Homo sapiens: one gene and its partners. The protein of the gene in region 1 binds, or shares a complex with, the protein of each later gene. Each region holds a gene or a part of one and is shown in the gene's direction. Other genes may lie near its edges. The genes, in order: EFTUD2, GPKOW, CRNKL1 and SNRNP200.

Region 1 (7,026 bases):
TCTATCTCCTGACCTCATGATCCGCCCATCTTGGCCTGCCAAAGTGCTGGGATTACAGGCATGAGCCACTGTGCCCAGCCAGTTAACTACTATTTAAGACAAAATTAAATACTGATAAAGGTGCAAAAAGCTCTAGTAGGATAGAGGAATGAGAAATTGAGGAGCTAGGAAAGCTTGAAGGAGGTGGTGGCATTTGAACTGTTTCTTTGAATAGAATTTCAGTAATTGAAGTGGAGAAAACCCACAAAACACTACTTAATTACAAAGGGAAAATGAGTAACTTTACAATGGAGAGGCCTGGCAAACATCACCTTAATGAAGTGATCAAAGTTAACGTTACCACTAATGGGGCAAATTGAAATCATGTATCACCTGATACGAAATGCATTGAGAAGAACACAGCATCACTTCTATGATATTCCTGCCCAAAACGCATAACCTGAATATTATCATAAGGTAACATCAGACAACCTCAAATCAAGGGACATCCTTAAGGATTTCATGACAGTCCTTGGAAGGAAAGACTGAAGATTGTAGATCCAAAGACTGAAGATTGTAGATCCAAAGAGACTAGAGACATGACAACCAAATGCAAACATGATCCTGGATTGGATCCTTAGGTGTGTAAGGTATTATTGGAACAATCTGTGAAACTTGAATGGGATCTGTAAAGAAGGTGGTAGTAATGTGTGAATATCAATTTTCTGATTTTGATGGTTGTATTGTGGTTATGTAGGAGAATGTTCTTGTTTGTAGGAATTACACATGGTGAGGGAGAGGTTGGCAAACTTTTTCTATTAAGGACTGGATAATATTTTAGGCTTTGTGAGCCATATGGTTTCAGTCTCAACTATTCAACTCTGCTATTACAGTGTGAAGGCAACTGTAAATGATGCAAATGAATATGCATGGCTGTTTTCCAGTGAAACTTTTTTTTTTTTTTTTTTTTTGAGATGGAGTCTTGTTCTGTCTCCCAGGCTGGAGTGCAGTGGTGCCATCTCGCCTCACTGCAACCTCCACCCCCTGGGTTCAAGGGATTCTCCTATATCAGCCTCCTGAGTAGCTGGGATTACAGGTGTGAGCCACCGTACCCAGCTAATTTTTGTATTTTTAGTAGAGACAGCGTTTTGCCATGTTGGCCAGGCTGGTCTCGAACTCCTGACCTCAGGTCATCTGCCTGCCTTGGCCTCCCAAAGTGCTGGTATTACAGGCATGCGCCACCGCGCCCGGCCTCCCAATGAAACTTTTTTAATAGACACTGACATTTGAATTCCTTATAATTAATTTTCATGTATCATGAAATATTTTTCTTTTGACTTTTTCCCTGGCAATTTACAAATGTGAAAAAGCATTCTTAGCTTGAGGGCCATGTAAAAACAGCTGGAGGGGCCAGATTTGGCCACAGGCCAGAGTTTGCCCACCCTTACACTAAAGTATTAGGAGGTGATGAGCCATTGTGTCAACAGCTCACTTTCAAATAATTTAGGAAAAAGTAAGTTATTTGTACTGTTCTTGCCATTTTTTGATACTGAGTTGTTTTAAAATTAAATTTAGTATTAAAAAAGTGGAGGGAGGGGGACCTCCTCTTTTGGCTTTGGAGCGCCCCCCACGCCCCATCTCTGTACGGCGGAGCTTCTTCCTTCTGTCTTCTTTCTTCCTTCTTGCCTATTCAACTCTCTGCTCCTTAAAACCCAAAACAAGAAAAGTGGAGGGAAGACTACATAAATAGAGACAAGTAAGGCAGAGACTTGGGGAAAGTACTGGGCTTTGGGAGGAGCATTCAGTAGGTTGATGTCACTGGAGAGGAGGCATGTGAAAGGGGTATGGCCAACCATAAGACTAAGACTAGACAGGTGGAGCCACCACATGAAGGCCTTGATTACCTTGTCAGAATCTAACTCTTCTCTCCTTGAATTTTAGCATCATGGATACCGACTTATATGATGAGTTTGGGAATTATATTGGACCAGAGCTTGATTCTGATGAAGATGATGATGAATTGGGTAGAGAGACCAAAGATCTTGATGAGGTAAAACAAATATATTGCTCTTTTATCTCACTCTTATTTATTTTATTTAAGACAAGATCTCACTCTCTTGCCAGGTTGGAGTGCAGTGGCGCAATCTCAGCTCACTGCAACCTCCACCTCCTGGGCTTAAGTGATCCTCCCACCTTGGCCTCCCAAGTAGCTGGGACTACAGGTATGCACCACCATGCCCAGCTAATTTTTTTTTATTTTTCGTGGAGATGAAACATTGCCCAGGCTGGTCTTGAACTCCTGAGCTCGAGCAGTCCACCTGCCTTGGCCTCCCAAACTGCTAGGATTACAGGCATGAGCCACCATGCCCAGCCCCCTCTTTTTTCTTTTTTTTTTTTTTGAGACAGTCTCACCCTGTTGCCCAGGCAGGAGCGCAGTGGCACCATCTTGGCTCACTGCAGCCTCTGCCTCCCAGGTCCAAGCAATTCTCAATGCCTCAGCCTCCTGAGTAGCTGGGATTACAGGTGTGTGCCACCATGCCCGGCTAATGTTTTTTGTATTTTTAGTAGAGACAGGGTTTCACTATGTTGTCCAGGCTGGTCTTGAAGTCCTGACTTCAAGCAATCCACCTGCCTTGGCCTCCCAAAGAGCTGGGATTATAGGCATGAGCCACCATGCCTGCCCCCCCACCCCCCCCCCCACCTTTTTTTAAAAAACAATGAAATTTTGAATCCTCTGTGTTCCAGTGATACCCTGGGTACGTCTCTTGAGATTGTCCTTTTTATAACATGACTTAGTGGGATCTCATACTGCTCCAGCAAAGCTTCGCTACTAAGGTTCCAAAAGGGAATATGTAGTTTCATTGATGAGATGGTTTTGTAATCTGAGCTCTAGTTGATCATTAGTTCTTCCATTTCCCTGAAGTGTCTTTTAACAGTCATGAATAATTCCCACTTGGAAAAGATACTCAACTCTTCCAGCTACAGCTGCACTGGGAGCTCCCTCACAAGCTCAGATTTTCAGAGATGCATAAAAGCAATAGAAAGGGCCCGGGCGTGGTGGCTCATGCCTGTAATCCCAGCACCTTGGGAGGCCAAGGTGGTCAGATCACACGGTCAGGAGTTCAAGACTAACCTGACCAATACGGTGAAACCCCGTCTCTACTAAAAATACAAATATTAGCCAGGCTTGTTGGCGCGTGCCTGTAGTCCCAGCTGCTTGGAAGGCCGAGGCAGGAAAATCACTTGAACACGGGAGGCGGAGGTTGCAGTGAGCCAAGATTGTGCCACTGTACTCCAGCCTGGGCAACAAGAGTGAGACTCGGTCTCAAACAAAAAAAAAAAAAAATGACTGTTGAGTACTTAGGAAGCTAGCATGAGTTTTATAAAAATAATTTTCTCTTGATAGGATTACTAGGTTGAGCCACAGGTCAGGGGCATGCTGTGGACATGATGTATCTTGATTTGGGCAAGACATTTGAAGTTTTTTATTGATGTCTTATAAACCAGCATTTTTTTTTCTTTTTGAAAATAAGGTTTACAGTCAGGTGTGGTGGCTTACGCCTGTAATTCCAGCATTTTGGGAGGCTGAGGCGCTTGAGCCCAGGAGTTTGAGACCAGCCTGGCCAACATGGTGAAACCCCGTCTCTACTAAAATACAAAAATTAGCTGGGTGTGGTGGTACATGCCTGTAATCCCAGCTACTCAGGAGGCTGAGGCAGGAGAATTGCTTGAACCCGGGAGGTAGACGTTGCAGTGAGCTGAGATCGAGCCACTGCTCTCCAGCCTGGGTGACACAGCGAGACTCCATCTCAAAAAAAAAAAAAAAAAAAAAAAAGGTTTTACAGTGTGTTTTTCTTTAATTATATAGGTAATTCATGAATACATTCTCATTCAAACCATGTTGATAGAAAGGTTTCCTTTGTTCTCATTCCATTCACTCTTCTTCCCCAGTTAACCTCTGTAACTCATGATGTCCTAGTGAAAAGAACATGGGCTGCATCATAATACAATTAGAGGAGGTCACAGCTGGTTGAACAGTGGGACACAAAGATTTTTGATTAATGGGTCACCAGCAGAGCTCTTGTGACATGTCCTAGGCATCTGTGTTTGGTCTTGTCCTTTTCAACTTAAAATATATTTAAATAGAGACAAGGTTTCACTATGTTGCTCAGGCTGGTGTTGAACTCCTGGGCTCAAGCAATCTGCCTGCCTTGGCCTCCCAAAATGCTGAGATTACATAGGGGAACCATTGTGCCCCGTCATTCAGCCTATTAGTGACTTGGGTAAAGATAGAGAACAGAGGTTTATCTAATTTGCACATGACATAAAACTAATGTATTGGATAACAGAATCTAAATTCAAAGTGATCCCAACATACATGAATTTGGGACTAAAAACCCAGTAATAGGCCAGGCGTGGTGGCTCACACATGTAATCCCAGCACTTTGGGAGGCTGAAGCGGGCAGATCACTTGAGGTCAGGAGTTCGAGACCAGCCTGGCCAACGTGGTGTGAAACCGTCTCTACTAAAAATACAAAAAATTAGTTGGGTGTGCTGGTGCGCGCCTGTAATCCCAGCTACTCGGGAGGCTGAGGCAGGATTTTTTTGTTGGGAGTGAGGGCAGGTGGAATTGGTAAGTAACAGAGTTTCTTTTTAGGGTGATGAAAATGATCTAAAATTGATCGTGGTGATGGTTGCACAATTCTGTGAATATACTAAAAACTATTATGCACTTAAAATGGATAGATTGTATGGAATGTGAATTATATCTCTATAAAGCTATTAACAAAAAAATTTTTAAAATAAAGAATAATGGGCTAAACACTTAGTGGCTCACACCTATAACCCCAGCACTTTGGAAGGTCAAGGCAGGAGGATCACTTGAACCGAGGAGTTTGAGACCAGCTTGGGCAATGTAGTGAGACCCCATTTCTACAAAAAATTTAAAAATTAGCCAAGCATGGTGGTACATGCCAGTAGTCACAGCTACTCAGGAGACTGAGGCAGGAGGATGGCTTGAGCCCAGGAATTTGAGGTAGTGGTGAGCTATGGTCATGCCACTGCACTCTAGCGTGGGCAACAGAGTGAGACCCTATGAAGGTTTTTACCTCAGTACAAACAGTTGAGTCACTCATACTCTTTAGTTCTTACTCCTCAGTGTCATTGCTGTGAGAGCTCTGCTGTTATTTAATTAATTTGTTAATTCCCATTTATCTCATTCCCATACCTGCCACCACAGTTCTTTGTAATTTATGTATGTTTCTTTTTCTATGAGTTGCATAGTGTGTGTGTATTTTAAGTAAATGGTATCATTGTCTGCATTGTTCTGTTTCTTTTCCCACTCAGCATCATGATGAGTGGTGCATTTTAGGGTTTCTCCCTGTTGCTGTGTGTACATCTAGTCTGTGGGAACTGACTGCTACTCGGTTTGCCCTGGTGACATTCCTCTCTTAGTGATAGACACCAAGGTTACCTGTCACCAGCCTTCCCTCGCCGTAATTAATAATCCAGTGTACATTCTCATATGTGTCCCTTTATGCAATGTGGAAAAATTTCTTTGGGTTATATTCCCAAGAGCAGAGTTGCTGGTTGTAGGATATTATATCTCTATCTACATATGCTTATTGTATTTATACTTAGTTAATATGTTTATACTAAGTACTGTCAGATTGCCCTTTAAAATGGCTGTACTGGTCTACCCTCTTTCCAGCAGAATGAGGGTTATAGCCTCCTAGTCCACAAGATGCATAGATTTATTATTATTGTTATTTTTTGAGATGGAGTTTCGCTCTTGTTGCCCAGGCTGGAGTGCAATGGCATGATCTCGGCTCACTGTAACCTCCACCTCCCGGGTTCAAGCGATTCTCCTGCCTCAGCCTCCCGAGTAGCTGGGATTACAGGCATGTGCGTCCACGCCCGGCTAGTTTTGTATTTTTAGTAGAGATGGGGTTTCTCCGTGTTGGTCAGACTGGTCTCGAACTCCCAACCTTAGGTGATCTGCCCGCCTCAGCCTCTCAAAGTGCTGGGATTACAGGTGTGAGCCACCGCACCTGGACAGATTTTTTTTTTTAATTATATTGAGGTATATAACAGTAGAGATGCATAGATTTTGGTAATGGGGACAGGAAAGAAAGATGTCCCTTCTAAGGCTGGGTGCGTTGGCTCATGCCTGTAATCCCAGCACTTTGGGAGGCTGAGGTGGGCAGATGACCTGAGGTCAAGAGTTCGAGACCAGTCTGGCCAACGTGATGAAACCCTGTCTCTATTAAAAATACAAAAATACAAAAATACAAAAATTAGCTGGGCGTGGTGGCATGCGCCTGGGTGGCATGCCCAGAGGCTAAGGCAGGAGAATCTCTTGAACCCAGGAGGCAGAGGTTGCAGTGAGCTGAGATCGCGCCACTGCACTCCAGCCCCGGCAAACAAGAGTGAAACTCCATCTCAAAAAAATAAAAAAATTAAAAATTAGAAAAAGCAATGATAAAAGAATATTTGTTTAGTTTTATTTGTTTAGACTTGTTGAGCTACTGTAGACTCGGATAGAGATAATTACAGGCAGTCAGAAATTATTATATAAAATCCTGCAGTTAGATTCATAATATATTCAGCAGTATGGGGCAGGAGAAAACTGGCTTGATAGCTATTTGGAGCCACCACCAGTAGGATATATGTGGCTGCCAAAAGAGCTAATGTAATCTTAGGCCACTTTAGTAGAAGTAGAGTGTAAGATGGTAGGAGGTAGCCGGTCTCACCACTGGAGGGTTTTGTGTTCTTAAGGAAGAGGTTGGCATGCTGGAATTTGTGTGAAGGAAAACAAGCACCCAGCAGTCCCTCTACCCACCTGCCTACATCTGTACTCATATACGATGCCTTCCCTTCCGTTCTTACGAATGATTTGTTCATGTTTCTGTCTACTAGAAACTAATCCCATCCCTTCTCACCACTCAAGACCTTTGGCAATTCTGCCCTCTCTCTCCTGTGCCATCAGTTTTCCCTGTCTACAGGATCATCCCCATCAGCATACACAGATAAAATGTCATTTCATCC
Region 2 (6,989 bases), on another chromosome or scaffold:
ATTTACCTTCCAAAATATGGTATGTCCCCATTTCATTCAATTTTATATTTTTTTCTTTTCTTTTCTTTTATTTATTTATTTATTTATTTATTTGAGAGGGAGTTTAGCTCTGTCACCCAGGCTGGAGTCCAGTGGCACAATCTCAGCTCACCACAACCCCTGCCTCCTGGGTTCAAGCGATGCTCCTGCCTCAGCCTCCCGAGTAACTGGGATTATCGGTAACCACTACCACACATGGCTAATTTTTTATTTTTAGTACAGATGGGGTTTCACCATGTTGGCCAGGCTGGTCTCGAACTCCCGACCTCAGAGGATCTGCCTGCCTCAGCCTCCCAAAGCGCTGGGATTATAGGCATGAGCCACCGTGCCCAGTCCATTTAATTATATTTATAGCAGCTGGTCATGCAGTGACTCACGCCTGTAATCTCAGCACTTTGGGAGGCCAAGGCAGTCGGATTACCTGAGGTGAGGAGTTTGAGACTAACCTGGCCAACATGGCAAAATCCCACCTCTACTGAAAATAGAAAAATTAGCCCAGCGTTGTGTCAGGCACCTCTAATCCCAGCTACTCAGGAGGCTGAGGCACGAGAATCGCTTGAACCTGGGAGGTGGAGGTTGCAGTGAGCCGAAATCACACCACTACACTCCAGCCTGGGCAACAGAGTGAGACCCTGTCTCAAAAAAAATATATATGTATATATATATATATTTTATATATATATATTTATTTACAACTTCCAATGTAAAGGCGTATTTCTTTCATCCAAGGTGTGTGCTGTAATTCATTTACTGCATCCCCTTCTGTTGATAATTTAAGTGGTCTTCAAGCTTTTGCCACAATAATATGATAATGAATCTCATAAAAAATTATTTTACACATCTTCAATGATATCCTTGAGCCTAATTTGTAGCAGAATTATATTACTCTTTCTTAAGAATATTTAAGTATCTGTCATCTACTGTACAAACTATTTTATTTTTATTTTACTTATTTACTTTTTTAGAGGCAGGATCTTGCTCTGTCACACAAGCTATAGTGCAGTGCCACGATCATAGCTCACTGTATCCACCAACTCCTGGCCTCAAGTAATCCTCCTGCCTCAGCCTCCCATAGTGCTGAAAGTACAGGTGTGAGCCACCACACCCAGCAACTCTGTATAAGCCACTCTGTATAAACTCTTTTTTTTTTTCATTTTAAATTTTTTTTCATTTTCTAAGGCAGAGTTTCACTCTGTCGCCCAAGCTGGAGTGCAATGACGTGATCTCGGCTCACTGCAACCTCCACCTCCCGGGTTCAAGCGATTCTCATGCCTCAGCCTCCTGAGTAGCTGGAACCACAGGCGCCTGCCACCATGCCCGGCCAATTTTTGTATGTTTAGTAGAGACAGAGTTTTGCCATGTTTGCCAGGTTGGTCTTGAACTCCTGGCCTCAAGTGATCCACCTGCCTCGGCTTCTCAGAGTGCTGGGATTACAGGCATGAACCACCGCACCCTGCCTGTATGAACTCTTGAGGTCCTACACAAGAGAGATCTGTCTCAATAATCTTTTTTTTTTTTAATTTTCTGACTGCTTCATTTTTCCTTCATATCAGTAATCTTTGAAGCCTTAGGACCTGGTTCTCACAATATGTTTAATGTTGCTATATGTATATGTGTGTGTGTTGCCCAGGCTGTAGTGCTGTGGCCTGATCACCGCTCAGTGCATCCTCAACCTCCTGGGCTGAAGTGATCCTCCCCCCTCAGCCCTCTGAGTAGCTGGGTCCACAGATGTGCGCCACCACACCCCATTAATTTTTAAATTTTTTTGTAGAGTCAGGGTGTCACTAGGTTGCCCAGGGTGGTCTCAAAGTCCTGAGCTCAAACAATCCTCCTGCCTAGGCCTCCCAAAGTGCTGGGATTATAGGCGTGAGCCACTAAGCTCGGCACATGTTGCTATATTTTTAAAATATGTATTTAAATGTCTGTATTCCCTACTAGACTACAAGTTTCTTTTTTTTCTTTTTCTTTTCTTTTTCTTTTTTTTTTTTTTTGAGACAGAGTCTCGCTCTGTTGCCCAGGCTGGAGTGCAGTGGGGCAATCTTGGCTCACTGCAACTTCCACCTACTAGGTTCAAGCGATTCTCCTGCCTCCACCTCCCGAGTAGCTGGGATTACAAGCATGTGCCACCACACCCGGCTAATTTTTGTATTTTTAGTGGAGATTGGGTTTTGCCATGTTGGCCAGGCTGGTCTCAAACTCTTGACCTCAGGTGGTCCGCCCGCCTAGGTCTCCCAAAGTGCTGGGATTACAGGCATGAGCCACTGTGCCCAGCCTATTTTATTGATATTTGAATCTAGTGCCTTGTTGAGTATTAAAATCTGACATCAGTAGGCACTATTCTTTTTCTTTTTTTTTTTTTTTTTTTTTTGTTTTTCTTTTGTTTTTCTTTTGTTTTTGAGACTGAGTGTCACTCTATAGCCCAGGCCGGAGTGTTGAGATCTCGGCTCACTGTAACCTCCGCCTCCCGGGTTCAAGCGATTCTCCTGCCTCAACCTCCCGAGTAGCTGGGATTACAGGCATGCGCCACCACACCCCGCTAATTTTTGTATTTTCAGTAGAGACGGGGTTTCACCATGTTGGCCAGGCTGGTCTCGAACTACTGGCCTCAAGTGATCCGCCCGCCTCGGCCTCCTAAAGTGCTGGGATTACGGGTATGAGCCTGGCCAATAGGCACTATTTCTTTCTTTCTTTCTTTTTTCTTTTTTAAGACGGAGTCTCGCTCTGTCGCCCAGGCTGGAGTGCAGTGGCAGGATCTCGGCTCACTGCAAACTCTGTCTCCCGGATTCAAGCAATCCTCCTGTCTCAGCCTCCCAAGTAGCTGGGGATACAGGCGCCACCACCACGCCCGGCTAATTTTTGTATTTTTAGTAGAGACAGGGTTTCACCATATGAGTCAGGCTGGTCTCAAAGTCCTGACCTCAGGTGATCCACCAGCCTCGGCCTCCCAAAATGCTGGGATTACAGGCATGAGCCACCACACCCCTCTAATTTTTGTATTTTCAGTAGAGACGGGGTTTTTTATGTCTATTATTTATTTTATGTCTATTATTTATTATTGTACACAACTGACGCTCCATCCCCCCCACCCCCGACCTTTTTCTTTTTTAGAGATGGGGTCTCGCTCTGTCACCCAGGCTGGAATGCAGTGGTGCGATAAGAGCTAAGTGCAGCCTCGAATTCCCAGGCCTCAGGCCATCCTCCTGCCTCAGCCTGCGGAGTAAATGGAACTACAGGTGCGCGCCACCACACCCAGCTGATTATTTCTAAATGATTTACTTCATCAACACTTCCCACATAAGTAGGGCACACATTAGGCGCTCCATAAATACTTGTCAAACGCCTACACGAAGGAAGATTAATGTCTGGCAAGAATGAATCCACCTTCCACCATGCCTACCCCGCTAAAAACTACATTTCCAGCCAGGCGTGGTGGCTCACACCTGTAATCCCAGCACTGTGGGAGGCCGAGGCAGGAGAATCACGAGGTCAGGAAATCGAGACCATCCTGGCTAACACGGTGAAACCCCGTCTCTACTAAAAATACAAAAATTAGCCAGGCGTGGTGGCGCATGCCTTTAGTCTCAGCTACTCGGGAGGCTGAGGCAGGAGAATCGCTTGAACCTGGGAGGCGGAGGTTGCAGTGAGCCGAGATCACGCCACTGCACTCCAGCCTGTGAAACAGAGCGAGACTCCATCTTAAAAAACAAAACAAAACAAACAAAAAAAAAACTACATTTCCCTGGGCGCTTGGCGCGACGCGCTCCCACCACGTTTGAAAGAGCGACAATTACTTCCCACGGCCCCTTACCGCCCCCTCCCGCCGGTGCCACAGTGGTTGATGGGAAGGTAGTTTTTACGCACTTTGGCCGGCCCCTAGCGATCTGAACCCAAACTAAATTTCCCAGCAAGCAGCGCGCCGGCCTGGGAAAAGGAGCAAGATGGCTGACTCCAAAGAGGGTGTTTTGCCGCTGACGGCTGCTTCCACTGCCCCAATTTCATTCGGCTTCACTCGCACGTCCGCACGGAGGCGGCTGGCCGACTCGGGAGACGGCGCGGGGCCATCTCCGGAGGAGAAGGATTTCTTGAAAACCGTGGAAGGGAGGGAGCTGCAGAGGTGACGCGCCGGGTCTTTCACCCCTTGGAAATCTCTGCGGTGGGCGTAAGCGGGAGGGAGGAATCTCAGTTGTTTGTCTTGGTGACAGTGACCTGTTAAGCCTGAAGCACAGCCTGAGTAAATTCGTGGAGGCCAGAAGGCGGGAGTTTATAGGAGGGGGTGAGGAAATTGGGCCTGATAGCTGTGGGAATTGCGAAGAGAGGATGTATTACTGAGAAGAAGTGTCTTTAGGACTTGAAGACACTAAGGTCTGTGCGTTCTGGGAGAAGGAAAGAATGAGAAAATGACAGGACCTGCTAGTGTCTCAACTGAAGGGCTGAGGCGTCCCCGATATGGGGAACGGGATGGAGCGGCAGATTCAGGTTGATGGAGGCCACCATCAGCTTAATGAGGAGAGGAGTGTCTGAGGGGTCTGAGGGAGGGATTTCCAGAAGAGAATCAGGCATCTAGGAAGCTGTTTGGGAACCTGGAGCTGGGGAAGGTCTGGGCTGAAGATAGTGATTTGTGGGCCATTGTAGAAGCCGGTATTGAGTTAAACAGAGAGTGCAGGACTTATTTCTCGAAGGCACTGACATTTATGAGTTGGGGGCACTGGGGAGATAATCCAGAGAATGCACGATCAGAGAGGAACAGGAGATCCAGACATGGAGTAGGGAAGACATGGTCTGTGGGGCTGGGGTGAGTTTGGCTCTTGTGTTTTCTCTGAATGAAGGAGTGTGACCCACTGACCCTGCCATTCTCCCAACCCCACCCCTCTGTGTCCACATCAGTGTGAAGCCCCAGGAGGCCCCCAAGGAACTCGTCATCCCTTTGATCCAGAATGGCCATCGCAGGCAGCCACCAGCCCGGCCCCCTGGGCCATCCACAGATACTGGGGCCTTGGCGGATGGGGTGGTGTCCCAGGCTGTGAAGGAGCTCATTGCGGGTGAGTGATACCCCTTTACCCTTCCCCATTGAAGGAAGAAGAGGAAGAAGGTGGAAGGATAGAGTGGGACTTCATTGCTCCCTCCTATTCTTCCTTTAGAATCCAAGAAGTCTCTGGAAGAGAGAGAGAATGCGGGTGTCGACCCCACGCTCGCTATCCCCATGATCCAGAAAGGATGCACCCCCAGCGGGGAAGGGGCAGACAGCGAACCCCGGGCAGAGACAGTGAGCTGGCCCCTTGTCCCCCTCCTGCCCCAGCCTTTCTTTGCCCTGTCCGCCAGGCTGTGTCCCTGCACGTAGCAGGGAAAGTCTGTGTGTGTGCTAGAGGCCCGCCACCTGCCCCTTCTCCTGTCATCATTTTGGAAGCATTACCAAATGAATCTGGGTATCTGGATGCTAAAAACGTACTTGAATCCTAGGATTATCTGAATGAGGTGTGCAGCAAAGGGAACAGGAAATGTAAAGGCCCTGAAGGTAGACACTGCCTAAAGTGTTTGCGGAACACCAAGGAGACCAGTGTGACTGAAGTGGAATGAGTAAGGGGAAGGGGTAGTAGACGAAGTCAGAAAGGAGATGGGGGTGCTAGACCAGGCAGGGCCTTGTAGGCCATTGTGAGGACTTTGGCTTTTACTCTGAGTGAGATGAGAGCCTGGACAAGCCCTGAGCATAGATGAAATATGATTTATGATTTGACAGTATCCCTCTGGAAGCTGTGAACAGACTCATTAGTGAAGGTGGAAGCAAGGGGATGAGTAGTCCAGGCTAGAGATGCTGGGGACTTAGACCAGAGTGGTCTGGAAGGATAAGTAGGGTTTAGTGAGAGAGGGAAGAACAGAGTGAGTACTCCTGTTAGTAGTAACAGCCCAAGCAATGGCATAGTGGTAGAAAATCGATATGGTGTGTCCATCAGTGAGGCAACATGTGGTGTATCTGGAGTGAATGGGAAGGAGTGATGATGGGAGGTGACAAGAGGGGACGTGAGAGGCATGTCTACAGAAGTAACCAAGTCTGTCTTTCATACCCACAGACCTGACTTTTCACCTCTTCTTTCATAAATTTCTTGCACTGCTTCTTTTGAGTCTAGTTCTTCTACAGCCCCACACCACTCTCTCTTTCAACTGAACTGTTCTCTTCAGCCTTCAGATGTGCCCTGGTTTCCTTCAACATTTTTTTGTTTGTTTGTTTTTTGTTTTTTGAGATAGAGTCTTGCCCTGTCGCCCAGGCTGGAGTGAAGTGGTGTGATCTCGGCTCACTGCAACCTCCCGGTCCTGGGATCAAGCGATTCTCCTGCCTCAGCCTCCCAAGTAGCTGGGATTACAGACACGTGTCACTACCGCCTGGCTAATTTTTGTATTTTTAGTAGAGACGAGGTTTCGCCACGTTGGTCAGGCTGGCCTTGAACTCCTGACCTCAAGTGATCTACCCACCTCAGCCTCCCAAAGTGCTGGGATTACCGGCGTGAGCCACTGTGCCCAGCTCCTTCATCTTTAAAGAAAAAAAAGATCCTCACTTCCCTCTTCATCCTTTCATCCTGTTCCAGCTTTGGCCTCATTCTTCTAATTTTTCCCTCTATAAACCTCCTCCTGCAGCTTTCTACATATCAGGTGACCAAAAATTCCATCCATCCTTCCTCTCACTCAGCATAAAAACCTTGGAGTCAGCCAGGGGCGGTGGCTCACGCCTGTAATCCCAACACTTTGAGAGGCTGAGGCCAGCGGATCACCTGAGGTCAGGAGTTCAAGACCAGCCTGGCCAACATGGCGAAACCCCATCACTAGTAAAAATACAAAAATTAGCTGGGCATGGTGGCACGTGCCTGTAATCACAGCTACTCGGGAGGCTGAGGCAGGAGAATCGCTTGAACCCAGGAGACTGAGGTTGCAGTGAGCTGAGATCATGCAACTGCACTCCA
Region 3 (7,067 bases), on another chromosome or scaffold:
CGTTTTCCCCTGGGTGTAGTCTGTGACAACTGTCACTGCAAACCAGCTGACGTTCCTCCATAGGAGAATGAAGTTTCTGAGAACTGGCCTGTTTAGAAGTTTCTGCAACTATATTCTTTGTTTCCAACAAAGCTGCTTTAAAAAATTCTAACAATAGAATTGGAAAAACATTGAAAGGAATTATTTACGGATTCAGGGTCCTCTTATATTTAATCGGCCACGATGGCATGTGGTGAAGAGTTACTGGGGAAATACTGACAGCTGCTGCCTATGTTCTTAATAGAGTTCTCCAAACTGGAGCCCTGAAGGTCAGCAGTCTTGAGACATATTTTGAGACCAAAAAAGTTCTGTGGTTAAGTGTAGGAAATGCTCGCAATAGGCTTCCTGAAGGGCCACCAGGCCCATTAACATCTTTGAGAGGTTCCATAATAAAGCAACTTGTTTTCTTTGTATAACCCAGCCTTTCCGACACTCTTTGGGAAGAGAATCTCTAATGACGGCAACAGTGGAGAACCTAACGTTCCAGAAGGACACTTTGGGAAATGCTGTTGACAAAAACAGTAGGTCACAAAATGATTTCAATTTCTCTCTCATTGTCTCAATTTCTGTAAGTCTCTCTTCTCTCTTTCCCTCCCTTCTTTCCTTCATAGGGAAAGCCATTTTATTATATACTAGCCAGTGAGCTCAAAACAGGGAAAACAATGAAGGAGAAATTAATAATGTCTAGACTCCTATCGAAGCTAACCATAAATATTGTCATTCCTTGTTCTGGTTTTAAATTGAAAGCAAAATTGGAATGAGACATCTTGTTTGTGAAACATATCATAAACTAATGCTACAAGTATATAAAAATTCTGAATAAAATAAGGAAGTATAATTAATTAGATAACTGACTTTGGTAAAAAGAAAACAAGAAAAGAAGAAAGAAAGCGAGCGAGGGAAATTCTCCAACCAGGTGGCAATGATGTGAGCCGATCTGACACAGGTTTTGGGGATAGAATGGACCTCACTCCAAACAGAGAATTAAAAATTAAACCATGCATCTACCTGGGACTTTGGATGGGCCCCTCGGTAAGTGAGGGGGCTAGAAAAATTAAACTCACCAGCCCAAGAAAGTGACAAGCTTTCTCTACACAAAGCTCTAGGTAGAAAATAAAGCAAAAATACTGCTGAGAAGTCCAAATTCTAGACTAAAGTGGGTATGGCATTCTAGTCCACACAATCTGTGTATTATGGGAGTCACCAAGAACTTTAGATGATAGACTCTGAAACAGACTACAAACTAAGTATGTTTATAATAAAGAAATATAGAAAGAGAAACAAAAGTCATGAGAAGAGAACAGGTCATTATTTAAAAAAGAACAGAAACTTAAAAAATGAAATACGTGGTTATTAAAATTTAAACTAAGAGGATGGGTTAAAAACAGAAGAATAAAGAAAATAAACTGGAAGATACTTATGAACAAATTATCTAGAAAGAAGCACATAGAAACAGAAAATACAGAATTCAGTAAAGACACATGTAAGACAGAATGAAAAACATCTGTCTTATGGGAATTCCAAAAGGAATAAATGAAACATTTGAAAATAATGGCTAATTACTTTTAGCATGGATGAAAGACATGAACCTTCAGTTCAGAGCAAAAAATACAAATAAACTCCAAATATATAGTAAAACTACAAAACCCTAAAGACAAACAGAAAACTTTAAAGGAACCTGACAAAAGACAGACTGTCTATAAAAAATAATTAGACTGACAGAATATTTCTCATGAGCAACATTAGAAGCCAGTAGCACGGGGGTTAGCAAACTTCTGTAAAAGGCCAGAGAATAAATACATTAAGCTTTATGAGCCACATGTTGTCTACACAACTAGTCAACTCTGCCATTGTAGCACAGTAACAACCAGAGACAATATCGGCACAAATGAGCATGAATGTATTCCCACAAAATTTTACTTACATACACTGAAAGTTGACTTATGTATAATTTTCATGTGCCATGTAATTTTTAAAAAATGTTTAAAATGTAAACTACATATAAAGTTTAATGTAAAATGTGTGTGTGTATATGTGTATGTATGTGTGTGTGTATATATATATATATATATCCCTAGCTCATTCACAGTCCATACAAAATAGTCAATGGGCTGAATTTAGTCTACGGCCCATAGTTTTCTAACTACTAGAATAGTGTTTTAAAAATATAAAAGGAAAAAATAACCATTAACCTAGACTGATAAACCTAAACAATCACTTTAAAATGAAGATAAAATAAAGACAATTTCATACAAAGACTGAAAGAATTCAAAGAATCTTGTAGAAAGAACTAGGAGATGGTATATTCTGAGAAGAATAAAATCAGAAAGAAGTGGAATACAAGATTAAATGCTGGGAAATAAGAAGGTAAACATGAAGGTATATCTACAAAAGCATTGATGGCAAAAAGTAAGAAGGATAATACATTTTTCCTAAAAAAAAAAAAAAAAAAAAACAAACAAAAAAAACACACACAGAGATGAACTGAATTGCCAGACAACAGAAATGTAAGAGAGAAGGATGGTGATCAGAAGCAAAGTATTCTAGCATGTTTGTACTTTTGAGCAAAGGCAACAGATGATTAAACCAATGATTCATTTGGTAAATCAATTGTTTACAGTAACACATTTAAGGAAAATCACTTCAAAGAAACATCTTTTTAATATTTATTTATTTTGTTAGGTGGCTTTATGAAAGTGATATAAAATCTTCTCTATTTAAATTTTGAAAAGTGAGATAAAATATCTAAATAATATGGTTAATAAAGAGTTATGGCAAATACATTGATGTTGGTTATAACTGACTGCAGTTCTAGAAATCTGCATAAATCTTTTGTTGAAAGTAATATCTGCATTGGTAGACGTGATATTACTACATACATAAATATATATTTTCCCCAAACACCAAAAGAGCTTTGCAACTGTGGAAATTATCCTAACAAATGAGCTGCCAAGTCATGTCATTATACATTTGTCCAACCTCATAGAATGTACACCAAGAGTGAACCCTAATATAAACTATGAACTTTGGGTGATAATGATGTGTCAATGTAGGTTCAAGATTGTAACAAATGTACTGCTCTGGTGGAGGATATTTTTAAGAGTTGGAGGCTGTTAGAGGAGGGAAGAGGTACAATAATTGATAGCAGGAAGCTGTGGAGGGAGGAAATCTCTGTGTCTTCCACTTAATTTTGTTGTGAACCTAAAACTTCTCTAAAAATGTCTATTAAAAAAAATTCTCTTAACCTTTGCTTTTCAGTTTTTGAGGGCAGGTTAAGTATTATAACAGCTAACATCTACTGAGCATTTGTCTTTAATCCTAGTGAAACAGATGTTATTAGCCTTGTTTTATAGTTGAGGACATTGAGGCTAAGAAAATTTAACTAGAGTAATTAAGGCACACACAGAATTTAAACATGTTTCTTATCACAAGACTGAGTTGTTTTCCAGTTACTCTATTTATATTTTTTCCTAATATCTGGCTTCAAAGTACCTTCTGTTATTTTTAATTCCAAGCCTTAGAGTTAATTATTTGGGCACCTTAGAATTATTTGGGCACAACTGTCCCGAAACCAGAAACGAGGGGGCGTGGACCCAGAGACTACTAGAATGCAATGCTCGAGGCATTGCAGCCTAAAAGGGCGGCAGCTCGCCCCGTCGCATGCTGGGAATGGTAGTTTCCTCGCTCTCCCTTCTTCCCCCGCCCTCGAGCATCCAGATTGGAGCTCCGTTCTTACTCCCTTGCAGGGCGCCACGGCTCGACAGAGCCACTCGTCCTCGCCTGGTCATCCCAGTTCCGGAGGCTGACCTGGGGATGCGCCCTGGACGCCCTGCACCGCAGTCCTTGCGTCGCTGCTAGTCAGCACGGCGTTACCCACCTCATCCGCAGCTCCAGGACGCCGCACTCCACGCGCTGCCGCAAGGAGGACGCGCAGCCTGGTCACCATGGAAACGGTGCCGCCTCCGTCACGGCTCAAGCGAGAGGTCAAAGGTCAGTCCTGCAAGTTCCGCTTCCGGTTCCGAGATCCTGTTTGTTTTCTGAAAGCTTTGTGGTTTCGGTGAGCTCTCAGAGCCGATTTCTAGCGTCCGTGCCGGGGACAGGTGTCCAGAGGTCGACTGCTGCAGACATGGCGGCCTCCACCGCGGCCGGGAAGCAGCGGATTCCCAAAGTGGCCAAGGTAGGCGATCGCGAGGGGCCTTGTAGGAGGTGGCCTAGGAAAGGGGCATCCCTCAGCCCTGAGGGTGCCCGGGTTGGGAGAGAGTGTTCCCGCCGGGGAGAAGGCTCACCCTGAGAGATGGAGAGGAAGGGCAGCTGGTGGTGGGGCGCGGGCTCTTGTCATCGCGGAGCACGACCCGCGTTGGCGTGGCCTTCGTTCTGGGGTGGTTTTGCTGGGGAGTGGAGTGGGGTGGTTCGGTGAAGATTTACTGAGCCAGGCACTGCACTGGGCGCTGGGAAGCTACGCTCGTACGCTGGCCACAAGCAGTACTCAAAACACGAGTTTCTGTATAAAGACGACCTTGCTAGATGTTACCGAGAGGCAAAGTAGAATATGCCATGGGCGTGAATAAGGGGGTCGTATGAAGGGGTCCTGAAAGTAAATTTTGCTGAGGAAATGACCTTTAAGCTGAGACTTGAAGGCTGAATAGGAGTTAGCCCAGCTGACAGCGGAGGGCGAGAGTAGACGGTAGGAGTAGTATAGTATCATAAGTTAATTAAACAGTAGACTTACTATCTGGTATTTCCTTTGATAGCTAATACTTACCAAGTGCTTAATATGTGGCAGACTTTGAAGCCTTTACAGATACCCTCCCTCCAGTCTTTCTTGAGCCCGGATGACTCTCTTGAACTGGACCTTTACATAACTATTTGTCTGACTCGCAGGAGTAATGCATATAGAGCAAGTAACACTGTGTCTGGCACTTAGTGCTTATTAAATATGAGCTATCACCATTATCATCATTACTCCACATGTGGCATTAAGTAACATTTTTTATAATTCAGCTACATAAACTTTTATTGGGCATCACTGGTCCAATGGAAATATAATGCACACCACATATGAAATTTTAAATTTTCTCATATCTACATTAAAAAGTAAAAACAAAGCAAAAAAGTGAAATTAATTTTGATAATATATATTTTATTTGAGCTAATGTATCCAAAATATTATCATTTCAACATGTAATCGGTATAAAAAATGTAATGAGGTAGTTTATTCTTTTTTATACTTCATCTTCAAAACCAATGTGTATTTTACACTTACAGTCCACCTCAATTTGTACTCACCACATGTGACTCATAGCTACTGTGTTGGACAGCACAGCTCTAAGCTACGTTAGACTGTAAGCTTCTAAGACCTCAAGAAGCTTACAGTCTAATGATGAGAACTTACTGAAATTGCCTTTGACTTGAAGTGCCATGTAAAACCAAACCCAGTTATACACCGGGGCATTAAATAAGTTGAAGAATTCTGTAAATGCAGGTTGTAATGCTGTTAATAAGATGTGCTACACATTTTGATAAAACAAAACCTCTGGTCAGAATTTTACCTAGACGGCCTCAAAGTTTATTATTATACTCATCTAAAAGGGAAAACTTGCTATTATTTTTGCCACCTTTTTCTCTTGAGACTTTTACCTATGGCTTTGCAGTAGATACTATGAATAAGAGAGAAAACGGTATTTTTTTTTTCTTTTCAGTCTCATGGAGGAATGGGAACATGTCATACAAAAAGGGCATCTTGTGATAATACTAACAAAGTTCATATCCTAAAAAATGTATGTTTGTTTCTTAAGCCTTGTGTGAAGAGCAACTACTAAAAATAGAAATGTCTTCTTTCTTAAAAGGTGAAAAACAAAGCCCCGGCTGAGGTACAGATAACTGCTGAACAACTCTTAAGAGAGGCTAAAGAAAGAGAACTTGAGCTTCTTCCACCTCCACCTCAACAGAAGATCACAGATGAAGAAGAATTAAATGATTATAAACTAAGGAAAAGGAAGGTCAGTCAGTGTGGTATCTTTCAGTCCACTAATTGTTAAGACTGTATCGGTCAGTTTGAAAAGCTCCTCATTGGTTGGATTCTGTAGGGCAAGATGAGGTTAAGTGTTTCCAGACGCATGAATAATGTACTTCTGGTTACCAGATAACAGCATTTTTCTGAACTATATAAAATATGCCATGAGTTGTCTGGTTAAAGTGTAAAGAAATTGAATCTGCATAATTTTTGATGCTGAATCAAAGTGAGCGGAAGTTTAGCAGATGGAACAACTGACAACAAGAAGGAGGGTATGCTTAGTAAGGCTGCACTGTGTACTTCTGTCTATACCACCTTCTGTGTTAAGAATTGAGATCTGGCTGGGCACAGTGGCTCGCGCCTGTAATCCCAACACTTTGGGAGGCCGAGGCGGGCAGATCACCTGAGGTCAGGAGTTTGAGACCAGCCTAGCCAACATGGTGAAACCCCATCTCTACTAAAATACAAAAATTAGCCAGGCGTGGTGGCAGGTGCCTGTAATCCCAGCTATTCGGGAGGCTGAGACATGAGAATCACAGCAACTCGGGAGGCAGAGGCTGCAGTGAGCCGAGATCGTGCCACTGCACTCCAGCCTGGGCGACAGAGCAAGACTTTGTCTCAAAAAAAAAAAAAGAAAGAAAGAAAGAAAGGAAAAGGAATTGAGGTCTGCAAAAGGACCATGAGAAGACTTTGGGATCTGATTTGACCTCTTCACTCTAGAATGTGGGACTGTTTTAAAGCACTAATGCTGTTATATATGAAATTCTGAGAATTACCAGAGGACTTAAAGGTAATAGTCAAAAACATTTTTTATTAGGGACAAGCATAGACCATTTTAAAGTATCAGTTAGTTGACTGTAACCTTCTGTAGTGGGTTTCTTATTCCTCAAGGATTCCAGGATGTAATTTCTCTTAAATATGAACAAAATGAATAACCATTTTAGTACAAGACTTAAAATAGACCAAGGGTGCTGTCATTTTTAGTCATTTGTCTTTTGACTTGACCCTTTTTGCC
Region 4 (7,026 bases), on another chromosome or scaffold:
TCATCACCCGCAAGGGTGGTGAGCGCACCTACACCCAGCTGGTGCGGCTCATCATTCTGGTGAGTTGGGAGCAGTCGTAGAATATAGAGTCCAGTTGTGTCAGGGCGGGTTTGCTGGGTTTTCATGCGAAATGTTTCTTTGCTGCCTTTTCTGTAGGCACTAGCCTTTGTAATGACTAGTCCTCCAATTCCGTAGGATGAGATCCATCTTCTCCACGATGACAGAGGTCCTGTCTTAGAAGCTTTGGTGGCCAGGGCCATCCAAAACATTATAATGACAGCTATTGTCAGCTTGTGTTTGCCATCTTATTTATTTATTTATTTGTTTGTTTGTTTGTTTGAGATGGAGTCTAGCTCTGTCGCCCAGGCTGAGTACAGTGGCACGATCTTGGCTCACTGCAGCCTCTGCCTCCCGAGTTCAAGCAATTCTCCTGCCTCAGCCTCCCCTGTAGCTGGAATTACAGGCGCCTGCCACCATGCCCAGCTAATTTTTATATTTTTAGTAGAGACTGGGTTTCACTGTGTTGGCCAGGCTGGTCTCGAACTCCTGACCTCGTGATCTACCCACCTCAGCCTCCCAAAGTTCTGGGATTACAAGCGTGAGCCACTGCGCCTAGCCTGCCATGTTATTCTTTATATATTTTTTTATGTCTGAAATATTTTACTACACTTGATCTTAAGCCAAAAGGCCAAGAAGCTATGTCTGAAATATTTTGAAACAAATGTAAACAGATAGACAAAAAACCATCATATCCAACATCATTTAGGGTTTTATAAGTAAAAGAATCCATTCTCTGAGGGAATGAGTGAGGAAGCAGGATATTGTATTCCATATACACAGAAACTTCCAGAGATTAGTGACTAAGTCTGAGTATAGTTTAAGTTGTCTGGGAAAAGCAAGAAAGGAGACTTCACGTGTTGGTTTTCAGTGTTCTGGAGCAGGGGTTGGCAGTCTGTGGGTACTGGCTTTGTTCTGTTGGAACATAGTTACACCCATTTGTTTATGTATTGTTTACAGCTGCTTTTGGCTGCAATGGCAGAGCTGAGTATTTGCAATAGGGGCTGCGTGGGCCAAAGCCTGAAATACTGACTGTCTGGCTTTTTTTTTTTAGACGGAGTTTCACTCTTGTTGCCCAGGCTGGAGTGCGATGATGCAATCTCAGCTCACTACAGCCTCCGCCTCCCGGGTTCAAGCAGTTCTCCTGCCTCAGTCTCCCGAGTAGCTGGGATTACAGTTGCCCGCCACCATGCCCAGCTAATTTTTTGTATTTTTAGTAGAAATGGGGTTTCACCAATCTGATGGCCAGGCTGGTCTCGAACTCCTGGCCTTGGGTGATGCACCTACCTCAGCCTCCCAAAGTGCTGGGATTACAGGCGTGAGCCACTGCCCCCGGCTTTTTTTTTTTTTTTTTTTTGAGATGGAGCATCTGACTTTTTAAAAAAAACATTTCTGGTCCCTGCTTTAGAGCTTTGCTACTTGAAGCCTGATCCATGGTTGGGGTCATAGCAGCAGCAGCATGGAATAGGAGCTTGTTAGAAATGCAGGATTTGTGGCCTCACCCCACACCTGCTGAATACAATCTCCTTTTTAACAACATCCCCTGGCTTTGGGATACTTAATAAAATTTGAGATGCACTGCTTTAGACTATTCAAACTCATCATTTGATGTGTGATAGCTTTTGTTCTTGGGAACTATAACTGCCAGAGGTGAAGCTTCTGATCAGATCATATTTATATCCTTTTTCATAAAGAAGTTTACCTTTAAGTAAAGTTTAAACTCATTTATCTGAGTTTCAGAATTTCTTTATACAAAGTATGTTACTGAACTGTACCAAAGCAACTCATGGTCAGAGTCTGTTACTTTCTGGAGTATTTCATGGGAAATATTGTCTCCATCCTTTGGGCATCTGTGGCTTGGGATCCCTTGTCTTTTTTCTTAGGCATATTAGGTTATATGCCTACAATATGGGACAATTCCAGGAAAAGGGACTATGTATCTCTAGTGCTAGAGGTAATTTCTGTCCTCCAATTCCGTAGGATGAGATTCATCTTCTCCACGATGACAGAGGTCCTGTCTTAGAAGCTTTAGTGGCCAGGGCCATCCGAAACATTGAGATGACCCAAGAGGATGTCCGACTCATTGGTCTCAGTGCCACCCTACCCAACTATGAAGATGTAGCCACCTTTCTACGTGTTGACCCTGCCAAGGGTCTCTTTTACTTTGACAACAGGTATCAGGAAAGACTGGGCAAAGTTCTGCCAAGGTGACCATCCTGCTCTCTTTCCTCTTTTCCAAGGAGTGCTACTGGGTTGGGTTTTAGAAGGGCCTTTGGGTTTTGATGTGGTGTGAATCATAAAGGAGGAATATTGCTCTTGGGGCAGTGAAAAAGACTGTTTATTCCCACAGTATTTTCTGCCAAAGCCTCATTTGTCTAACTGTTGAACTTCTAGCTTCCGTCCAGTGCCTCTGGAACAGACATATGTGGGTATCACAGAGAAAAAAGCTATCAAGCGTTTCCAGATCATGAATGAAATCGTCTATGAAAAAATCATGGAACATGCTGGAAAAAATCAGGTTTGCCCGTGGTTTATGGTTACTCTTGAACCCCATTCTTTCGAATGTTTGATTCACCAATAATTGGGGAAGATTGACAGAAATTAAAAGAGAGAAGACACAACATAAATCACCAATATCAGCTATGAAATGGGATATTACTACAGAACCTATAGCCACTGGAAGGATAATAAGGGAATACTATGAGTAATTTTATGCTCATAACTTTAAAAATTCAGAAGAAATGGACCAGTTCTCCAACAACTACCAGTTAACTAGCAAAACTCAGCCCAGATGAAATAGATAACATGAAGAGCCCTACAACTATTAGAGAGTTGGAGAATTAAAAATCCCCCCAGCAAGCAATCCCCAGTCCCAGATAATTGTTTTGTGCATTCGCATTATCCAGGGTCCCTCCATAAAAGATTTGGGGTCACTTACACTAAAAATGCAAGACAATAAAAAGAGGAAAATGAAAAACTAGAGGGCATTTTACTAGACAGTGTGATAGAATTTTTAAATTGAAAGTCGAGTTGAGCAATGTTAACTAACAAAAAATAAGGAAAAGTGACTGGTTTTGTATTTCTTTTTGTCTGATGAAAAGAAGCATATGAATTTATATGAAGAGACAGATCTTTTCTTGGCACTAAATACTAGGAAGACTTCATTCCCTACAACAGTGTACTAGTCTCAGACTTATTTCCTAAATCCTTTTATAAGTAGTGTAATGTTTTAGTTGTTATTTTGCAGACACATTTTCATGCAGCTTTGACTCTTGTTAGGTGCTTGAACATAAATTCTGAGTTGAGAGGCCCGAATTTGTAGTTGTAGTCTATTTAAAGTTGCTGTTCAAGATAGGATGTTGAAGTTGGTTTAATTTCTCAGCTCCAGGACTGTGAACTTGGTGGGTGCATTCCCTTAAAAGTCTTTCCAGCCGTGTTTAGGCTTCCTCTGAGCCTGCACACATTCCTGCCCTTGCCCCTCTCCAGGACCTTGGCTTCTGGTGGTGATGGTGCAACTTCTGCTTCCTGCTGCAGGTGCCCTGGGGCTGTGAGTATCTCGTGACTGTAGCAAACTGTGGCTTCTCCTTAGGTGCTGGTGTTTGTCCACTCCCGGAAGGAGACTGGAAAGACAGCCAGGGCCATCCGGGACATGTGCCTAGAAAAGGACACTCTGGGTCTGTTTCTGAGGGAGGGCTCAGCCTCCACAGAAGTCCTGCGAACAGAAGCTGAGCAGTGCAAGGTGAGGAGGGGCCAGCTGGGTTCTCTCATTCCTACCTGGCAGCTGTGTCCATCTCAGGCCCCAGACAGCTCCTCTAGGACTGTACTGTGGTATTGTTGTTTCCCATGGGTTAAGGTTGATTGTCTGGATGTGATTATTACTATTCCACATAATAGTTAAGGGGCAGGGTCTCATGGGAGGAGATTTCCTTAGTCCTTGGATGAGTCCTACAGGAAGGCTCGCCTCATCCCCGGTTCTTTGTTCCACAGAACCTAGAGCTGAAGGATCTTCTGCCTTATGGCTTTGCTATTCATCACGCAGGCATGACCAGGGTTGACCGAACACTCGTGGAGGATCTTTTTGCTGATAAACATATTCAGGTGAGGGGGTGCAAAGCGTTTGGAGGAGCAGGTGGGACATACTTCAGAAGATGGGCAATGTCAAGTTTGTGCCATGTTTGCTCCTGGTACTTTATTGCTTCTGGCCCAGCTAGCCCAGGTCAGAGGGTTGTGGTGGACACAATAAATAGAACCTTATGCTACTCTCCCAACTCTTCCCACCTTGCTTGAGTTTAGGATAGTCTGAGAAGCATAGTGAAGCAAGCACTTTGGTGACTTCAGATAGCTCCAAACAGTGTCTCATGGGGGCACGCGTGCCCTTGTCGTTCCCTCTTTCCGGATAGGCTCTGTTTTACCTTTTCTAGTAACTTTAAGGTTGTTTAATACAAGTCTGCACTTGTGCCTCTGGAACCTTGAAATGTTCATTACTGAATAGATGAGGAACCCAAGGAAACCTTTCCTCTTTATTCTGGTGTCACATTGACAAGTACTGGGACCCCACGCGCCCTACCGGCTAGTCCTGAGAGAAGCTCTGAGGCCAACTGCCTAGAGAAGCCAGGGATATTAACCCCTGGTGATGGCATCTGTTCTCCTCATTACCTTGTTTTGCCTCTGTAGGTTTTAGTTTCCACAGCAACTCTAGCTTGGGGTGTGAATCTCCCTGCACATACAGTCATCATCAAAGGCACCCAGGTGTACAGTCCAGAGAAGGGGCGTTGGACAGAACTGGGAGCACTGGACATTCTGCAGGTACAGAGCCTTTTGAGTTTATTCTCAGCAGGGATCAGTATCCTTGCCTGAAATGCAGGGATGCTGGAAAGCTAGCAGATCAGAGGTCTAGTTCTGTAATGTAGATACCTGCATCAAAATTCAGACATTCTCTTGACATAGCATTCTTGGTTCGCTGTCTCTGATCTAGATGCTGGGACGTGCCGGAAGACCCCAGTATGACACCAAGGGTGAAGGCATACTCATCACATCTCATGGGGAGCTACAGTACTACCTGTCCCTCCTCAATCAACAACTTCCTATTGAAAGCCAGATGGTTTCAAAGCTTCCTGACATGCTCAATGCAGAAATCGTGCTAGGAAATGTCCAGAATGCCAAGGTAGGGGAGGACTGCTTGTTGTGCTTCATGCTTTCCCCGCAGACACCAAGGCACCAGGAGTGGGTCGGTCCCTATTGTGCTGCGGGCCAGCAGCGTCCGAGGCCTTCCATCCCTGCACCCACATCTTGGGTCTGGCAGATAGTTCCCCTTGTTACCAAGATCTTAGAAGACGCTTAGATCTTTTTAATAATGAAATGCTAAAAACATTCAGAATACGATGTAATATGCATCCTTGTAGTTGGGAATTAATTTCTAAGCAATTCATGGGAGCCTGTCATTTGGACATCAAGAGTTTCTCCATGCTAAGAACCATGAGCTGTGTCTTGTAGGATGCGGTGAACTGGCTGGGCTATGCCTACCTCTATATCCGAATGCTGCGATCCCCAACCCTCTATGGCATCTCTCATGATGACCTCAAGGGAGATCCCCTGCTGGACCAGCGCCGACTAGATCTGGTTCATACAGCTGCCCTGATGCTGGACAAGAACAATCTGGTCAAGTACGACAAGAAGACGGGCAACTTCCAGGTGCGTGGGGTGAGGGTTTTGAGGCAAAGGTCTCAGCAAAAGTTGTTGGCCCAGGAAAAAATTTTTCAGATTGCTCTCTTGATGTGAGTACTGCCTATCTAATCACCTGTTGCTTAGAACAGCAGAAAAATGGGTAGCTTTTCCCATAACTTGAGGTGGATAATTCAGCTGTCTTGTCCGTGCAGACATCATTTCACTATGGGTCAGCTTATTCTGCTGTTTTTCTTCATGTGCCTGGGCCTGGCACTTGTACTGCTGTGACTTCATCCAGTTGTCCTATTAGGACAATAATGACATTGGGTCATATACTTTACCAAAAAAAAAGTACAAAAAACCTATAGGACAGTAACTTATGGTCCACAGTTAGAGGTTGGAGCTCATTAATAGTCAGCACTGGATTGAGTCTACCTTCTCTCCAGGTGACAGAACTGGGCCGTATAGCCAGCCACTACTACATCACCAATGATACAGTGCAGACTTACAACCAGCTGCTGAAGCCCACCCTGAGTGAGATTGAGCTTTTCAGGGTCTTCTCATTGTCCTCTGAGTTCAAGAACATCACAGTGAGAGAGGTGAGCCTATGCAGCATGATGGGGCGGGGAGTTGGTGCTCACCAAGTCACTGAATGGTGTCCCTCCTCGGCCACAAGGCTTTCCCTTGACCTTTTCCTCCTTGTGGCAGGAGGAGAAGCTGGAGCTGCAGAAGTTGCTGGAGAGGGTGCCTATCCCTGTAAAGGAGAGCATTGAGGAACCCAGTGCTAAGGTGAGCTCCTCTCCTCTTTGCTTTGATAAGGATGAGGATTAAGTGGTTTTCATAATCTTCTAAAAGATGAACCTTGAATTTGGGTTCATGTGTGGTTTCCTGCTCAGTTCTCCTAGTTTTTGCAGCCTTCTCGCATGTTCTTTTTATATGAAATAACAATTATTTAGTATTTGTAAATCAAGACCTGTAGCAAATCTCACCTGGCCTGGATGCTCAGAGCAGAAATGTAATTCCCTTTCTTGGACTGTTCAGTGATTGGTCTCCTGCTGGCTGATTTTGCTTCTTTACAGATCAACGTTCTTCTGCAAGCCTTCATCTCACAGCTGAAATTGGAGGGCTTTGCACTGATGGCTGACATGGTGTATGTCACACAGGTGAGAGCGGAGTTGTATGGCAGCTGTGAGAAGGGGCCTGAACAGTTCAATCCCTGTGTGCTGTGTGCATCCTGGGGAAAGGAGGCCCGACCCTAGTGAGATGGGAGGAGTGCTTAGTTCTGCTCTTGCCGGGTAGTTGGTT

Evidence for each region.
Region 2: EFTUD2 (region 1) and GPKOW share a complex: the UniProt entries of both Homo sapiens proteins name them as parts of the minor spliceosome.
Region 3: EFTUD2 (region 1) and CRNKL1 share a complex: the UniProt entries of both Homo sapiens proteins name them as parts of the minor spliceosome.
Region 4: EFTUD2 (region 1) and SNRNP200 share a complex: the UniProt entries of both Homo sapiens proteins name them as parts of the minor spliceosome.

The regions. Positions count from the first base shown.
Region 1 is NC_000017.11:44,889,420-44,896,445, reverse strand, and holds part of EFTUD2 (116 kDa U5 small nuclear ribonucleoprotein component), read left to right. Parts: intron 1-1,920; 5' UTR 1,921-1,924; coding exon 1,925-2,029; intron 2,030-7,026. UniProt on the Homo sapiens protein: Required for pre-mRNA splicing as component of the spliceosome, including pre-catalytic, catalytic and post-catalytic spliceosomal complexes. Component of the U5 snRNP and the U4/U6-U5 tri-snRNP complex, a building block of the spliceosome.
Region 2 is NC_000023.11:49,120,711-49,127,699, reverse strand, and holds the start of GPKOW (G-patch domain and KOW motifs-containing protein), read left to right. Parts: upstream 1-3,964; 5' UTR 3,965-3,977; coding exon 3,978-4,153; intron 4,154-4,923; coding exon 4,924-5,078; intron 5,079-5,177; coding exon 5,178-5,302; intron 5,303-6,989. UniProt on the Homo sapiens protein: RNA-binding protein involved in pre-mRNA splicing. As a component of the minor spliceosome, involved in the splicing of U12-type introns in pre-mRNAs.
Region 3 is NC_000020.11:20,049,441-20,056,507, reverse strand, and holds the start of CRNKL1 (crooked neck-like protein 1), read left to right. Parts: upstream 1-4,165; coding exon 4,166-4,216; intron 4,217-5,885; coding exon 5,886-6,038; intron 6,039-7,067. UniProt on the Homo sapiens protein: Involved in pre-mRNA splicing process. As a component of the minor spliceosome, involved in the splicing of U12-type introns in pre-mRNAs.
Region 4 is NC_000002.12:96,288,521-96,295,546, reverse strand, and holds part of SNRNP200 (U5 small nuclear ribonucleoprotein 200 kDa helicase), read left to right. Parts: coding exon 1-59; intron 60-2,037; coding exon 2,038-2,231; intron 2,232-2,451; coding exon 2,452-2,575; intron 2,576-3,646; coding exon 3,647-3,796; intron 3,797-4,044; coding exon 4,045-4,155; intron 4,156-4,731; coding exon 4,732-4,863; intron 4,864-5,032; coding exon 5,033-5,221; intron 5,222-5,550; coding exon 5,551-5,748; intron 5,749-6,167; coding exon 6,168-6,320; intron 6,321-6,429; coding exon 6,430-6,510; intron 6,511-6,800; coding exon 6,801-6,884; intron 6,885-7,026. UniProt on the Homo sapiens protein: Catalyzes the ATP-dependent unwinding of U4/U6 RNA duplices, an essential step in the assembly of a catalytically active spliceosome. Plays a role in pre-mRNA splicing as a core component of precatalytic, catalytic and postcatalytic spliceosomal complexes.